2 separate regions of the Homo sapiens genome follow, and region 2 is reported to be linked to region 1. The links are microRNA targets in miRTarBase. Many come from high-throughput screens and were not tested one by one. Region 1 holds a microRNA gene; the other region holds the end of a gene's coding sequence.

Region 1 (8,221 bases):
AAGCATTCTGAGGCCTCCCGAGAAGCCAGGCAGGTACAGGTACCATGCTTCCTGTACAACCTGCAGAACAGTGTGCCAGTTAAACCTCTTTTCTTTGTACATTACCCAGTCTCAGGTATTCTTTTTTTTTTTTTTTTTTTTTTTTTTTTGGAGACAGTCTCGCTCTGTCGCCCAGGCTGGGGTGCAGTGGCATGATCTCCGCTTACTGCAAGCTCTGCCTCCCGGGTTCACGCCATTCTCCTGCCTCAGTCTCCCAAGTAGCTGGGACTACACCACGCCCGGCTAATTTTTTTGTATTTTTAGTAGAGTTTCATGGGGTTTCACCATGTTAGCCAGGATGGTCTCGATCTCCTGACCTCGTGATCCGCCCGCCTCGGCCTCCCAAAGTGCTGGGATTACAGGCGTGAGCCACCGCGTCCGGCCAGGTATTTCCCTATAGTGACACAAAAGCCTGAATAACACAGGAATAGATGAAGAATGGTCTCAAATACGCATCAAGGTGTTTAGGCGTTATCCTTTGGACAACGAGAAATTATTTGAGTGTTTCAAGCAGATGTTATGTATTTGCCACTGGATACCTCTGTGTGCAGGATATACTTTAGGGGTAGACAACTGAGGAGGTGAGAGTAGTCTAGAGTCAAGGCCCTAAGGTGTGACTCAGTACAGCAGAAGGGGACCTCAAACTTGGCATGCCCTAAAAAACCCACTATGCGACCAGACGCGGTGGCTCAGGCCTGTAATCCCAGTACTTTGGGAGGCCAAGGCTAGTGGATCACTTGAGGTCAGGAGTGAGAGAGACTGAAGAAGTGGAGTTGACAGGACCTACCAGCAAGGGTGGAGGGGAGAGAGGAGCCAAGGGCGACTCAGTTGTGCTTCAGTGACAGGGAACTCATTGGCATGAGTTGGAAGAGGAGATACAGGAGGGGGAACCTGTCTGAGGGAGAGCATAATGGGATTGTTTATTTGAGGCAGGGTCTCACTCTTTTGCCCAGGCTGGGGTATAGTGGCGCGATCTCAGCTCACTGCAACCTCTGCCTCCTGGGTTCAAGCAATTCTCCTGTCTCAGCCTCTTGAGTAGCTGGGATTACAGGCACGTACCACCACACCTGGCTAATTTTTGTATTTTTAGTAGAGATGGGGTTTCACCATGTTGGCCAGGCTGGTTTCGAACGCCTGACATCAAGTGATCCACCTGCCTCAGCCTCCTGAGTAGCTGGGATGACAGGCGTACACCACTATGCCTGGCTAATTTTTGTATTTTTAGTAGAGACGGGGTTTCACCATGTTGGCCAGACTGGTTTCGAACTCCTGACATCAAGTGATCCACCTGCCTTGACCTCCCAAAGTACTGGAATTACAGGCGTGAGGCGCTGTGCCTGGCCGCATAGTAGATTTTTTAGGGCAGGCTGAGTTTGAGGTGGCTGCAGGACACCCAGCTGCAGCTGGGCAGGAGTTGAGGGTCTGAGCTCAGAAGAGAGATGGAGATTGAGGAGCTGGTGGCTCTTACTTGGTTGCTGTAGCTATGGAAGTAGATGGGATAATCCAGGTGACAGGAGGGAGGAACGAAGAAGCTGGTACCCCTCCAAGGCCCACCCTGGCCTGGCAGGAGGAATGAGACTGAAAAGGGGGCCAGAGAGCTGGAGGCAGCTCTGTCCACTAGAGGCTTATGGCTCATGGGACAGATTTGACAGCTAAGAAACAGATCTGTATACAATGAAGGCCCCAGAGCATGATGGTGTCAGTGTATGCTGCCGGCGTTGTGTGAGTTGAGGGTGTGTGAACTCCAGGAGGGCTGGATGGGAGGGGAGGGGTGGGCCACAGCCGCACGGAGCTTTCTCAGGTGTGATTCTGAACCCTTTCCATTAATGGCAGAAGTTGGAAGGGAGCTGCCTCCCCAAATTTGCAGGCCAAGGTCCTCCCCGCTTGCACAATTGGCAGGGTGTTCCCCATCAGTGCTGACATTATCATCTCCCATCAAGGGGCAGGAAAACAAACCTTGTTTGCTTTCATAACTTTCTGTGTGTGATTTTTGACTGGGGGATGGGAAAAGGGGAGAAGGAAATGTTAGTGCTTCCTGTTGTTTTTAAGACCATTTATGAATTGCATTTTATGGTCTTTTCATTTTGTGACATCAAGCATATGAAGCATGATAGCCATAGAACTGGCCAATGAGAAAATGTAAAGAAAACCAAACCGGGTGCAGTGGCTCATGCCTGTAATCCTTGTACTTTAGGAGGCCGAGGCAGGCAGATCACCTGAGGTCAGGAGTTCGAGACCAGCCTGGCCAACATGGTGAAACTCCGTCTCTACTAAAAATACAAAAATTAGCTAGGCGTGGTGGCGTGTGCCTGTAATCCCAGGTACCCGGGAGGCTGAGGCAGGAGAATCGCTGGAACCCAGGAGGCGGAGGCTGCAGTGAGCCAAGATTGCACCACTGCACTCCAGCCTGGGCGACAGAGCAAGACTCTGCCTCAAAAAAAGAAAGAAAGAAAGAAAGAAAGAAAGAAAATCCAGGCTCCATTGACTTCACACACTTAATATAAAAGTTCTCATTTTAATAAATTTAAATGTATAGTTTTGTGGCATTAAGTACATTCACACTGTTGTGTAACCATCACCACTATCCATCTCCAGAAGGCTTTTCCTCTTGCAAAACTGAAACTCTGGATCCATTAAGCAGTAACTTCCCATTCCTCCTCTCCCCAGCCCCTGGCAACCACCATTCTACTTTCTGTCTCTGTGAATTTTACTATTCTGAGTGCCTCATACGATTAAAATCATATAGGGTTTGTCCTTTTATAACTGGCTTATTTCACTTAGCATAGTGTCCTTTTTTTTTTTTTCTTGTTTTTAAGACAGAGTTTCGCTCTTGTTGCCCAGGCTGGAGTGCTATGGTGCAATCTCGGCTCACTGCAACCTCTGCCTCCAGGGTTCAAGTGATTCTCATGCCTCATCCTCCCGAGTAGCTGGGATTACAGATGTGTGCCACCACGCCTGGCCAATTTTTGTATTTTTAGTAGAGACGGGGTTTCACCATGTTGGCCAGGCTGGTCTCGAACTCCTGACCTCAAGTGATCCACCCACCTCGGTCTCCCAAAGTGCTAGGATTACAGGCCATGAGCCACTGCGCCCGGCCAGCATAGTTTCTTTTCAAAACTCATCCAAGTAGTAGCATGTGTCAGAATTTCCTTCCTTTTTACGGCTGAATAGTATTCCATTGTACATATGTATCACATTTTCTGTATCCATTCATCCATCAGTGGATGCTTAGATGGCTTCCACCTTTTGGTTATTGAGTGGACAGTGCTGCTACAAATATCGAGGGTGTGAATATCCATTCGTGTGTCTGCTTTCGGTTCTTGGGTTTATACCTGGGGTGTCCCTTGGCTTTTGCTGTATGATCGACTCCTGCTGGGGATTTCTGGGATTGCCCTCTTTGTTACCTTTCTGTTTTAGCTTCTGGGAGAATCTTAGGTGTGTCCCTAGGCTGGGCTTTGTGACCCGCTGGACAGCCATTACTGAGCCCCTGCCTACAAAGATCCACACCTTGTCCCCTTGGCACCATCTTAGAGTTTGAATCAGGAAGATTTACGTTGTAACCTCAGTACTTCCACTAATGTGCCCTGTGATGTTGGAAAGCTTCCTCATGTTCCTGTGGGCCTCTGTTTCCACACGAACGCAATGAGAAAGTAGAACTCAGTGATCTTCAGGGTCCCTCCCGGGTGATGGACAGTGAGTGCACAGTGGTCTCCTAAGCCCAGTGACCAAGGAACCAAGGTGGACACGAAGAAGGCAGAGCCCCAGATGCCTGTCATGGATAATGCAATTCAGAAACTTGGGTCGGTTAGGTGGCTTGTGTACTTGCTGAATTCTGGTGTATGCTACGTGGCTCGTTTTGTGAGTAAATGTAGCAGTAATTCCCCTTAAAGCAAAACTATATGTTATATATTATCCACCCTTCGTTGAGAGAATGGGACAAAGAGAGGCAGGATAACTGGTTTTACCATAGATTTTTGGCAGATGTCACCAACTAATACTGTCAGGAATATTTTATAGGCAAATTTTACCTCTTGTTAGGACTGCAGTTTGGTCACAGGCCAAGGCAATTTTAATCTTTTTCCCTCACTTCTTTTAAAAGAAAAAAAAGCTAAAGAGCAGACTTCCTTCTCCTTAGCTTGAACTGTGAGCAGGAGTCCACGCTTTCCTGAACTAGGAAGGTGAGTTCCAGGAAGTTACCCACACGATCAACTTTCAGGCCTCTTGAATGCACACAAAAAATGTGGACTTGCCTGGGGCTCCCTGCTGGTGTTTGGAGACTAGGAACTAATCCTCCCATTAGTTCTTTCTCTGCCGCACCAGGGAAACATCATATATACTAGTGACTTTCTGTCTTCTTTATCTCATCAGTAAAAGGCGGATCCTGTTTTTGTTTTCAAGAATGTGTTAGGGTATTGGGATGGCTAGAATCCATTTGGAGCACATGAGAAAATGTATAGCATTTTCTGTTTAGGAGACATTTGAACCATCTAATTAAAAAAAAAAAAAAAAAAAGACTTAAGTCCGGATACTAGACCACCAGTTTTTTAATACATGGAAAATTTAGAAGCAATTTCAAAAATGTCTCACTGTGACTGGAACTAGGTTATGTCAATACAAGGCTCCTAGGGGAAAAATTTATACTGGATAAAACTCTAAAATAAATGAATATACTAAAAAACACCAAAAATCTGGCCAGCAGTGGTGGCTCACACCTGTAATCCCAGAACTTTGGGAGGCCGAGATGGGCAGATCACTTGAGACCAGGAGTTTGAGACCAGCTTGACCAACATGGTGAAACCCCATCTCTACTAAAAATACAAAAAATATCTGGGCATGGTGGCGGGCGCCTGTAATCCCAGCTACTCCAGGAGGTTGAGGCAGGAGAATCTCTTGAACCCGGAAGATGGAGGTTGCAGTGGGCCGAGATTACTCCACTGCACTCCCACCTGGGCAACAGAGCCAGACCCTGTCTCAAAAAAAAAAAAAGAAAGAAAATAGAATGGCTGCAAGAAGTAAACAGAGGATGTTTGCTCCTATTTTGTTCCTTACAAGTATAGCTAACAAAGGACCTTGTGAGTATTGGAATAATAAAATGTCATTCCCATTTAAGTTGCACATGTACATTTTTATACCTGCACCAAAGGTTTTTGGAATCTTTGTCTCTGGCTGTTGGATCATGAAAGACCCCTTTGGCTTCAGCTGTAAAACAAGGCAAATTTTACCCATAATAGAAACTACTATATATGTGTGTTGGTTTAGGGAAGCCTATTTTTTAACATTCTATTTCCTGATAAAACCTTAGAAAAATCATATTGTGTTTAAAAGTTGAGGATTTTTTCAGCAACTCAAGGGCTGACTGATAATTTCTGGTTTTGCTAGTACTTGTCTACAATGGAAGTTGGAAGCTTAGTCGGAGTAGAAAAGTTGTAAATTTGGTGTCATCAAGACAAATGGCTTTTATTTCCCAACAGACTTCTTTATAAAATAATTTAACCCCTTGATTTTTGTTTGCATTTGGATGCAATTTAAAAAAAAATCTGGCCCTTTAATAAGTGCAAGACAGATTAAATGTATTGTGAAATATCAGGTCACTGAGTGGAAAGTTTCTTCACTGATCATCCTAGCTTCACATTTTTAGTTATGTGAAGTACACATTTTGATAGTATTTTGGTTTTCTCCTGCCTGAAATCTTCAGTCCTCCTCCCTGGCAGTCTGTAGAATGAAGCAGCTGTGGTCCGTGGCCAAGTGTGCGTCCTTTGGTGATGGAAGAGCTGATCTGCAGATACCTGCAGGAGGAAGCCATGCATGATGTCTGCTGGGATATGATTTCCCCCCATACTCCTGGAAAATTAGAACCGTTTATAGCAGCCTGGTTCCAATACACTGGCAGGGCAAGGATTGGCTCCTTCTCTTACAAACACAGCGTGGCTGGATGCATTCATAAATGAAAAATGATCTGAGTGCTGTGGGTGGGTGGGGCTCTGGAGCTCAGGAGGTGAAGCCGGGAGGAGAGAGAGAGAATCTGCTCCTCAGCTCCACAGAGCATGGGGAGCTGGCAGGAAGTTGGAGCACGCATGGCGCAGCTTGTATTTTTGTTGATAGTTAATAACCCAGGACTTTAAAGACCTGAATGGAGAAGGGAAGTGAAGCACAACCAACTTTGGAGTCTGTCCCATTCCAGAGGCTGCTGAAGCACAGCAGAGCACGCTCACCTGACCAGCTCATAAAGCAGGTAGGACGGGAGACCTGAGTGGTGAAGAGAATCACATTTTCTCTCTGAACACAACTTACAGGTCTTCCAAGGGTTTATTATTTTTTAATTATATGAGAGATGAGCAGGTAATAATAACATAAAAGACTCAGCTTGAATTGTGCTGATATCTGCCCAAGCAAGAGTTCTCTCAGTTACTAGTGTGATGACCAAATGACAGTTTTATTCTGAGAGTTGCTTTAAAAAAAAAAAAAGAAAAAAAGCATGCAGCATTGAAGCTTTTTTAATTTAAACTCATTTAAAAATTGGCAGATGATAAATGAACTGCAGACACTGTGTTTTAGAACAAATACTTTGAAGGGAGTCAACCAGAAACCGATTTTCAGGCTTGACTGTGGCTCCATTTTCATATTTCAGAGCCAACGAGGTGCTCACTAATTTTTGCTGGCTTTTGTAAGAAAGGAGGTGGATGTATAACAGCTGTGAAATATCCAGAAATTGACTGGGATCCAGAGTGAAGCCCGAATGCACTAATGTTTTCTCCATTAAGGCAGGCTGCCTCTGCTCGGCTTCTAAGTCAAGGGATTGGAAAGCAGTGTGAAAGTGAAGTGTGAATCCTGAATATTTGTCATGGAGTGGGGGGAGTGCAGAGGGTTGGAAACTGTCACAGTGACGTTTCACACTCAGAAGTAGAAAATAAATGGGGAGGACCATGGGTGGCAGCCACATGCAAGGATAATTTTAAAACTGATTTTTGATTCCCATGATTGTAGCCGAGTCTCAGGGTGTTCCTTCCGTTGTCAAGGTTTGGGGCTTGTGATAAGAGAAGTAGAACAGAATAAAGATCATCTCCAGCCCCAGGTTCTGAATCATTTCTAGGCCTTGCTTCTCCTGGGCACTGGGATGATCTGACATGTTTTCCCTCACTAATGAAGTGGCCAGGGTGTTGGGGGATTGGGCTAACATGGAGGAGGTTGGATAGAAATGGTGCGTGTGGTCAGCCTGAGAAGAACGTCAGAGGTAGGTGGAGAATTTTGTTTCGGTAGAATAGCCCAGCCTGAATCCTGGAACTGTTTGCGTTGAGGTTTGGAGAATGCCCCGTAGCCACAGGGGTGTGTCTGAAAAGGCAAAATTGGGAGCTGCTTGGGTTACTGCTTACTGCCTGGCTGGCATCCTCATGCTGTGGTCATCCTCATGCCGTGGTGGCCACGTTTTGTGGCTTTGCATTTTAGTCCTGGAGGGCTGGGGGATGGCTGTGTTTAGTCAAGCAAGCCCACACATCATTGCTAGTCTCTCTTTCCGTGTGATTTCTCAGCATTACACAGCTAGCCTTCTATGGGAGGAGGAACGGCACCTCCTGTGGTCTTTTAGAAAACTTTTTCACCCCATGTTCCTACCGTCGCCACCCCAACTCTTGTCCTTTCTTGCCTACTGTTCACCTGTTGTGTGTGTCCCCTTTGTCTCCCATCCTTCAGACTGATCTGTCCCAGGTGCTATCTGCAGTGACTTAGAAGCTGTGTTGGGGACAGGTTCCTTCCCAGGGTTCCTGCTGGAAGCGGTGTTCAGCAAGCTATGGCCCTTAGGCAAATCCAGACTGCCCTAGCCTGTTTTTGTATGGCCTGGGAGCTAAGAATGTGTTTTATGTTTTGAAGAGTTGAAGAAACAAAGAAGAATATAGGACAGAGATAGTGACCCACAAAGCCTATCCGATCTTTAGAAAAAAACATTTGCTGGTTTGCTGGTTGGTCTGTTGATTTCCGCCCCCATTTAGAGACAGAGTTTCACTCTGTTGGCCAGATTGGTGTCAAACTTTTGACCTCAAGTGATCTGCCCACCTCGGCCTCCCAAAGTGCTAGGATTACAGGTGTGAGCCACTGCTCCCAGCACTCCACCTTGACCTGTTGATTTTTTAATATCATTGGTGAATAATGTGATCAGTGGGTTGATGCAGCAAGTTAAGCCCTCAGCAAT
Region 2 (8,221 bases), not on the chromosome of region 1:
CCACCTCCTCCCACCTGGGAAGGCAAGTTGTCCTTTTCAGAGAAAAGTGGAGCTGTCTTTGGCCCCCAGGAGCTTTTCTCAACATGAAATTTCTCCAGTTTTGTGACCTTAGGCCAAGAATTGCAGTATAGGAGGAGCCAGGGTTTCTCCACACTTGAAGTTTCTTGCTGTGGGCTCATTTCTACACTTTGAAGAGTGCCAGTGCCCTCTTCACAGCCTGAAGCCCCAAGCACTTGTTCCTCTGGCCCCTCTGCTCACCTGCCAGATCCCCCTAATTCCTCCTCCACCCCCCTACCCCATTCTGTGAGCCATGGGGCTCAGCCCCTCCCTCTCCTCCCATGGGCATCATGAAGACAGGGTTCTACCTGGCTCCTGCTGCAAAGGCCCTGGGTGGGGGAACACACTCCCAACACTGCACAGGACTGCCTCCCCACCCCCACGACCTTGTCCCTGGGCCACAGGCCTGCTTCAGTGTTCTTGCCCAATGAAAGCTGCCCTGACACTCTTTTAAACCCGATTCTGCTGAGGGTTGGGTTTCTTGGTTCCAGGATTTTTTTTTTTTTTTAACCACAGCTGGCACCCTGGCCAGTTCTAAAACAGCCCTGAACTTCCTATTCCACTCCTCAGTTGTGCCCAGCTAGAGTCCCTTGGCTTCTTCTCTCCTGGTCATAAACCTTGTCCAGGGCTTTTCTTTTGCCAAAGGACGGTCTGGAGGCTTCTGCATCTACCCTGGCTGTCACCCTAACCCGTGGCCTCCCCAGCCTTTCCTCTGGCATGCCCACCACCAGCACCCCACTCCCTGGTCCTGCCCATGGCTAGTGAGGGTCAAGTGAGTGTCCAGCCGAGAATTTAGCAACTCAGAGTGAGAGAAGCTTTAGCTTTGCTTTTTAGTAAGTTAAGACTGACACATGGCCATCCACTCCCAAAGAGTCCCAGCCCTCCAGGCAGCACTGAGGCCCAGGCAGATGGCCCAGCCGCGCTCTGCAGCTTCCCTGCTGCCCACCCACCCACCTGCCCACCGACAGCACCGCCAGGAGGTCTGGGCAGAAAGCATGCAGCTGTGATGGCCAGGCACCTGCCGCAGCCCTGTCTCCAAGCTGGACAGAACTAAGATGGAGGCTGCCACAGGTCAGGTTGCAGCAACTCTTGCCTCCACCTGGGCAGAGGCAGCGGCCGGGGTGGCATGGGGCTGGTCTGGCCGGTCCCACTAGCTGGATCCTGGCTACCACAGTAGCACGTCCTGAAATTGGTCTTTGTTGTTGTTGTTGTTGTTTTCAACTTTATGTATAAAAAAATTTTCCTAGAAATTTTTAATATTCTGGCTACCAGATAACATCTCCCAGAATTCCCACACCCCGAAGGGGCATAAAACTCCTGCCAGACCACACGTTCTGATTTTGGTTTGGCATATATGGTCAATGGCTGTAAGGCTGGTATTCCGGGACACTTTGCCCATTTCTGGATAAAGGGCAAGGGCAGTGAATGGAGTAGGGAGGAACGTGGCTGAAATAGGGAAGGGTCAAGGCCAATATGGACATGTGCTTTCTTTGGTTCCACAGTGTTGGAGGCTGTAGCCTTTGACCAGGCATGGGACCAGGAGGTGAGGCCGGCTCTCAGGCATCAACCAAAGGATCCACTGAATCTCCCTTCTCCCCCTGCCAACAAAGGTACAAGTAGATGTTGACACCCCCTCAGACATGGAAGGAGACCCATTTTTTTCTTTTTCTAGTTCTGGATAAATGGCCTTAAACAAAATATGCAAACAGGCTCCTTGCGTCTCCCAAAGGCAGCCCACCACAGAAGCCCTGCCACAGCCCAAGGGGTTAGATGCTGCCAGGATCTGTTTCCGCCACAGAGCAGCTCTGTGCAGCACGTTCCTGCCAACCACCCTGAGTGCTTCAGGGCTTCCGAGGCCGTGACAGTGAGGGCAGCGGCACTTCTGGGTCACCGTGGGACAGGTCTCTGCCTCAGGACACGGATTGACAAGCTCTCTGAGTGGGCCAGGAGCTCCTTAATGTGAGCCAAGCCCAGCCCTGCCACCTTGGCCCCGTTCACCTCGAGGATCTCATCGCCCACCCCCAGCAGCCCTGAGTACAGCTTGGCCATGCTCATGTCAGCCATCTCCTGCACGTAGATCCCTGCAGAGGAAAACAGGAGAATTTCACAATGACACCCAAATCGAAGAAGTGCATCTCTGGAATGCTGACCATGTTGATGAGGTGCTGTTTGTGTGGCACAGGGAGGAGGTGCTCATACCAGGCACTTCTCTGTGCGCATGCACACATACACACACCCCTCATTATTCCATCTCACAACCACAACTGGCTTTAGACATAGATACAGTGCGCCTCCTCCATGGTCTAACTCCATTCCACTGTCTCTGCTTTTAAAGTGGAAATGCTCCTAGTGCAAATAACGCGTTAAACTGTTGTCATTTATTTATACCTGACAGTGAGTGAGCTAATCTTTTTCTGAGATGAGCTTTTCTTGTAGAATTGGGAGGAAAATAGTTTTTAAAAATTAGGAACCATACCTACTCAGTGCCTGGCACTATGATCCAGTTGCTGCCTCAGGTCACCCAGGCCCAGCGTAAAGGCCGGGGTGGTGGGAAGGTATCATCGGAAGAGCAAAAGTGGCTGAGCCACATCCAAGCCTGGTTTGCTGCACTCTATTGCCAAAGACTGACACTGGCCTCAGTCTTACTCAGATATGGCTCCTCAATTGGGATGGGGAAGCATCTGAGCAAAAAACCCCAGGAAAAATAAAAATTCTAGCCACATATTTCAAAGCTGCGGTGGCTCCCTCTCCTCTTCTGCACATGCCCCCTCCTCCCCACCCCAAAGAGGCCCTGCCTGGGTCTAGAAGGTGCCAAGAGCCAGCCTGCGGGAACTAGCTTCTCTGCTTCTTTGCCAGGCTCCGGCTCTCAGGGAGCCCCCCGTCAGTGGGGCAGGCCCTGTGGGGCTTGGGCTGGCTGGGCTGGGAAGTGTCCAGCTGAGGAGGCCCCCTGCCCCCAACCCCCGCCCGCCGGCCTCAACCGCGGCTGGAAACCTTTCAAATTCCCCTCCAGCTGCTCCCACCTGGGAGAGTAAGTGAGGTGCTGGCTCTCCCAGGGCAGGCTGGACCCCCTGATGCCCATGCTTCATGCTGGGTGGACACAGGGGCTGAGACACAAGCTGAGTTTGCTGGAGGGACTGCGGGGCACACCCCTGGTGTGGGCATCAGCACTGGCGGAATTCAGGCTGCTCAGCGCAGCCTTTGGCACCCTCGCTGTTCGCAGCCCAGCTCGGCTCACTCTGCATTTCAGACATGAGGCCACTGCCCACGCGTTACTGTCTTCACTTCCTTTTCCTCGAATCAGGTTCTTAGCAGGGGCCCGAAAGGGCATCAGGTCTGCTCCTCAATCTCTGGCTTGAAACTAGTCACCACATCTTGGACTAGTGGGAAGTCCTCTCTCGGATCCCCCAGCCCCGTAGGAGCTTTGGGCAGCCCAGCCTGTGGCCCTGACAGAAGTCAGGCGTTTTAAAGCCTGCCTCTGAAGTGTGGGTTTGAAAGAGCACTGATCTTCACCGAAGTACCTGAAAGTCTGTGGCTCTGAATTTAGTAAATCCAATCTTTGTACACATTCCCCCTCCCTGGTCTGAGGTGTAGAATCCCTTTTGTTGCTTCTTGGCCAAGCCGAGCCTTTTCTGTGGGGCTGTCTTCCCTGACAGAGTACATCTGCCATCCTGACTGTACAAGGCGTTTTCCCTCAGCCCTGTCTTTTACCTCCTCTAGATGGACCTTTCACTGCTTGCCCTCCCTGTCTACGGGTTGGTGGCACGGGGAGGGGGCAGGTAAGAAGGGGCCCCTGGGGCAAACCCAGAGAAGTGTCTGATGTGCTGTGGGAGTTGCAGGTGGGGACTAATGATAAACCCTGAAAGAATGCTGCCAGAGCTAGGCCAGACACTGACGTCACGCCTGCCATTTTGGGGAGACTCGGGTAGGTTTCGCAACTGAAATTCGTGACACAAATATGACAGCCTGCTGTCATAGGCATTTATTGTCTGCTGGAAATGGCCTTTGTTGAGGATGTGTGATCTCTATGTTGTATCCAATTAGAAGCAGAAGGCAAAGCCTGCTGTTCTCACAGGCTCATATAGAGTCGGATGTGAAAGCCAGCAAGTTAATACCAGCATCCTGCCGGTTCAGTGCGGGGCGCAAGCCAGCCCTCCTCACAGCCCCTTGGAGCCTGGAAGAAGCGACCCTCTGCTGTTGGAGGATGGCCTGGGACACGGAGGCCCCAGCACTCGCCAGGCTTCATGTGCGTGGGGACCCCTGTGTGCCATCCAGCGCCCATGATGGCAGCAGGACCAGGGAGTGCCTGGGCACAACGGGGAGCTGGCACCAACTCAGGCGAGGGTGCCGGGGGCCCTGGGTCACTAGAGACCCCTGCCCATCAGAGCTCCCTGACGGGTGACAGGGAGGGGCTCCCACTGCCTACAAGGGAGCAAAAAGGGACTCTGGGGGAGGGTGGGCGGCAGAGTACAATGACCTGTTGTGTGTGCACTCACATCGACAGGTGAATGCGGATCACGCTGGTCCCTGTCTGGGGTTCTCTTCCCCAGACTTTCTCTTTCTGAAGGGGAGGGAAGAAAAATGCTAGGCCCTTTCCTGTGTGCCTTACCAAATGCTCCTTATGACTCTTCTAGGTAGGTTTTGTCATCCTCATTTCACAGATTAGGGAACTGAGTGAGGCTCAGTGGGGATGTCGCCTGCTCTAGATCACATAGCCAGCAGAGGTGCCGGAGCACAAACATGCTGCGTTGTCTGCCTCTGCCTTCACACCACCTGTCCGGGGGGCCTGTCCTGCTCCCCTAACGGGAGAGGAGGCTACGGGAAGGCCTGTGAGGAAGGACTTTTTATCCTCCTGAGGTCCAGAGTAGGCAGAGACCTGTCCTCTCTTCCTCTTACATGTCCAGCTCATCAGCAAATAGTCAAATCAACCAGAATCCAACCCCTGTCCCCTCTCCCCTCTCCCCATCTCCACAGCCGTTCCCAGTCCAGGCACCACTGTCTCTGTCCTGGACTGCTGAAATAGCTTCAACACAGGGCTCCCTGGCTCCACCCGTGTCCCACTGGGGTCTATTCTCATAGACATTAGAGAGTCTCAGTGCTCGCTCCGAGCCCTCTAGTGGCTCCCATCTCATTCGGCATGAAAGCCAAAGCCCCTTACAGTGGCACAACCCCATCTTTCCAAACTCTGCTCCTCCCAACCCGTTGCCTGCTCTGCAGTGTCCAGCCTGACCCTCACAGTTCTCACAGGCCAGGCTCGCCCCTCCACCAGGGCTCCGCACTTGCTGTTCAGTCTGCCGGAATGCTCTTCCCCAGACACCCATGGGGCCCCTTCCTCGCCCCATCCACGGCCCTGCTCAAGTGTCATCTTCTCAGAAAAGCCTCCCCACACTCCTGTCTATACCAGCACCTGCCACACCTGCTTTATCTGTCTGTTTCTCAGAACTTTCTTTTCACCATCTGACATACGTAGCACATTATACATAACAAGAGTACACATTTTATAGATACAATCTAACTGCTCACTGGGTAGTATATTCATGAGGATAGGGATTTGGTCTGTTCCATTTACTGCTGTATCCCCCGTATCTATAACACATAGTAGGTGCTTAGTATATATTTGCTGAAACAATGATGGAACAGACATGAGAACTCATGCTGTGGTCTGCAAATGTGGTAGCAGGCAGACTTTTTTCCAGGCTAAACAGCATTGAGCTAGGAGATCAAAGCACAGGACTCAACCCCCCATCGGCAGAGCCCGGCCGCAGCAGGCTTCTGTGTTCGTCTTTCTGTATCTGTCTCTCCCTTTCTCTCTCCTTCCTTCCCCTCCCCTCCTTCCCCACCCTCACATACGTGTCTTCCTTCCCTGATCCTCTGGGGAATGTCTTTTATGGGCCCTTGAGATGCATTCTGGACCACAGACCTTGGGCGTGGGCTTTTGCAAGTCACGTTGCCCTGAAAGACTCATGGATGGGGTGGAACTGAGAACTGGTCAGAGTGCAGAATGATGTCCAGGACTTCTCCCTGCCATTGCCTGGGTTGAATTGAGACCCAGAGCACACCCCAGTCAGAGGCCTGCAGCCAGGATTCATCTGAACATAATCATCGGGCACAGGCCTGAGGGAGGGACGGGATGCAGAGACAGACAGGCATGCTCCACGTGCCCAGACATACTCCACAGCCGGAGGAAAGGAACCGTTTCAACGCAGCCACATCAAAGGGACTGCTGAGAACCAGCAGGCACAGACAGTTTCCCTCTGGCTCTCCTCTGCAAAGATGGCCTTCAAAATTCTAATTTATTTATTTCTTTTTTTTTTTCCTTTGAGATGAAGTTTTGCTCTTGTTGCCCAGGCTGGAGTGCAATGGCGCAATCTCGGCTCACTGCAACCTCTACCTCCCGGGTTCAAGCAATTCTCCTGCCTCAGCCTCCCAAGTAGCTGGGATTATAGGCATGCGCCACCACGCCCAGCTAATTTTGTATTTTTAGTAGACATGGGTTTCACCATGTGGGCCAGACTGGTCTCGAACTCCTGACCTCAGGTGATCCAGGCGCCTCGGCCTCCCAAAGTTCTGGGATTACAGGCATGAGCCACTGCGCCCGGCCTAAGCTTCTAATTTCAAGATGTCATCAGACAGCAGGGGGACAGTGGAGTCAAACCTGCCAACTCTACCCCCTCCCGCACACTCCCCACCAACGCACTCTCAGCTGCAGTTGCCTAGGGCAAAGGCTCTGCAGGTGCAGACTCCTAGAGAGCCCTGGACAATTCAGAAAGAGCCCCTGAGGGGAGAAGCCTAGTCCTGTAGTCAGAGGCTTTCTGAATTCCCAGAGCTGCACGGCTCAGCCAAAGACCAGAAAAGCCTCTGACCACAGCCAGAAGGCCCTGCCTTGTTTGCTAAGGCCGCCCCAGCCATGGGGCTGAGGAAGAGGAGAGGGCATACCTGAGTCTGGGCGCCCATTCCCAGAGGCCACGCAGAAGCCGAAAGTGCCCCCTGGGGAGCGCTGCAGCTGCAGCTGGCTGGTGCCGTCTGGGAACACCTCCACCAGGCGGCCCACGGTGCGAGCCAGGCTGGGAGCACCCACGTCCTCCACACTGAGGGCACGCCGTGGTGAAGTCTTGGCCGGCCTGCGAGGGAACCAGAGACACAGTGAGGGCAAAAAGCATCAGGCACTGGGCACAGCTCTTCCCTGGCTTACAGATGACCGATGCCTCACAGACTTAAGAGCCTGGCATTGGAGGCTGGGGTTCTGCTGACTTCAGCCAGCAAAAAGAGCCTGCTAGGGCCAAAACTGGTGGGTTTCCGCCGCTGTGCAAGGCCCCCCAAGGCCTGCTGTGGAACTAGAAACCCCACCCTCCCAAAGCAGTGGTTTCAAATTTTGGGGGGTACAGAGACCTTTGTAAGAATCTGACAAAAGGTATAACTTTATGTCACATTTCCAGGAGCTAACATACACCCTGAAGTACATCCACGCCCCAGGAAAGAGCAGCCAGCCTACAGGGCCTCATCGGACAGGGTGGGATTTTCCAAGCAGGTCATGGGTCACGGGCCTCTTTGGGGGCCTCTGTCTCTATGTGTTTATTCAGATCTTTAGCTGGGCTAAGAAAACTCTCTAAACTTTCTGATTTCAAGATGTCATTGCACAGCAGAGGGACAGTGGAATCAAACCGGCCAACTCTACCCCCTCCAGCGACCCCAGGCCTTCTCAGAGCCCAATGCACCGAGGGTCCATGCAGGGCACTGAGGTGCTGAGACTCCCGTGGCAGCCTCGTCTCCACACATCACATGTCCTGTTGCTTTCCCTTCAAAGGACCCTGCTCAGAGCCATGATGCTGAGGCAGGAAGGAGTTAAGCTTTTGGCTCCGCTGGTCACTCTCTGAGTTTATCCTCCAAACCATGTGTGCCCCTCATACCTGCCAGCTGCACTGTGGTCCCCTGGCCCTGCTACCAGGTAGAGGCTGGACCGGTTCCCCTTGCTGCTCAGCAGAGAATGGAGGTTCTGAAAAGAGGCAGCTTTCCGACGCTGGTGAGAGGGTGACACCTGATGAGAAAGGGACAATATTGCGGGTGAGAAAAGCTACCTGGGAGGTGCTGACAGAGGACTTGGCCCCACCATGAACCTGAGGGCCCTGTAAGAAAGTGACAGCACAAGCTTTTATCATTGCTTCCAAGA

Evidence for each region. Region 1 holds the annotated microRNA hsa-miR-4279 (CUCUCCUCCCGGCUUC, at 6,037-6,052, opposite strand). A microRNA usually pairs through its seed, bases 2 to 8, with sites in the 3' UTR of a target mRNA and lowers its output. Matches are read on the target gene's strand: a 7mer-m8 pairs with bases 2 to 8, a 7mer-A1 pairs with bases 2 to 7 and ends in A, and an 8mer does both.
Region 2: miRTarBase lists KIAA1614 as a target of hsa-miR-4279. Seed matches in the 3' UTR shown: 7mer-A1 at 6,463-6,469, 7mer-m8 at 6,314-6,320 and 7mer-m8 at 2,804-2,810.

The regions. Positions count from the first base shown.
Region 1 is chr5:31,930,076-31,938,296 of GRCh38, forward strand. It overlaps MIR4279 (microRNA 4279), which reads right to left and starts at 6,084; the gene lies at 6,027-6,084. The region is part of intron 2 of PDZD2 (PDZ domain containing 2); the gene reads left to right.
Region 2 is chr1:180,944,257-180,952,477 of GRCh38, reverse strand. It overlaps KIAA1614, which reads right to left. Exons shown (of 9, transcript NM_020950.2): 8 at 7,962-8,089; 9 at 864-7,175. The coding sequence ends at 6,890. It overlaps KIAA1614-AS1 (KIAA1614 antisense RNA 1), which reads left to right. Exons shown (of 2, transcript NR_145481.1): 2 at 1,560-2,788. Among named protein-coding and RNA genes, the nearest start is that of KIAA1614-AS1, 6.5 kb to the left of the region's middle. RefSeq lists an enhancer at 2,503-3,053.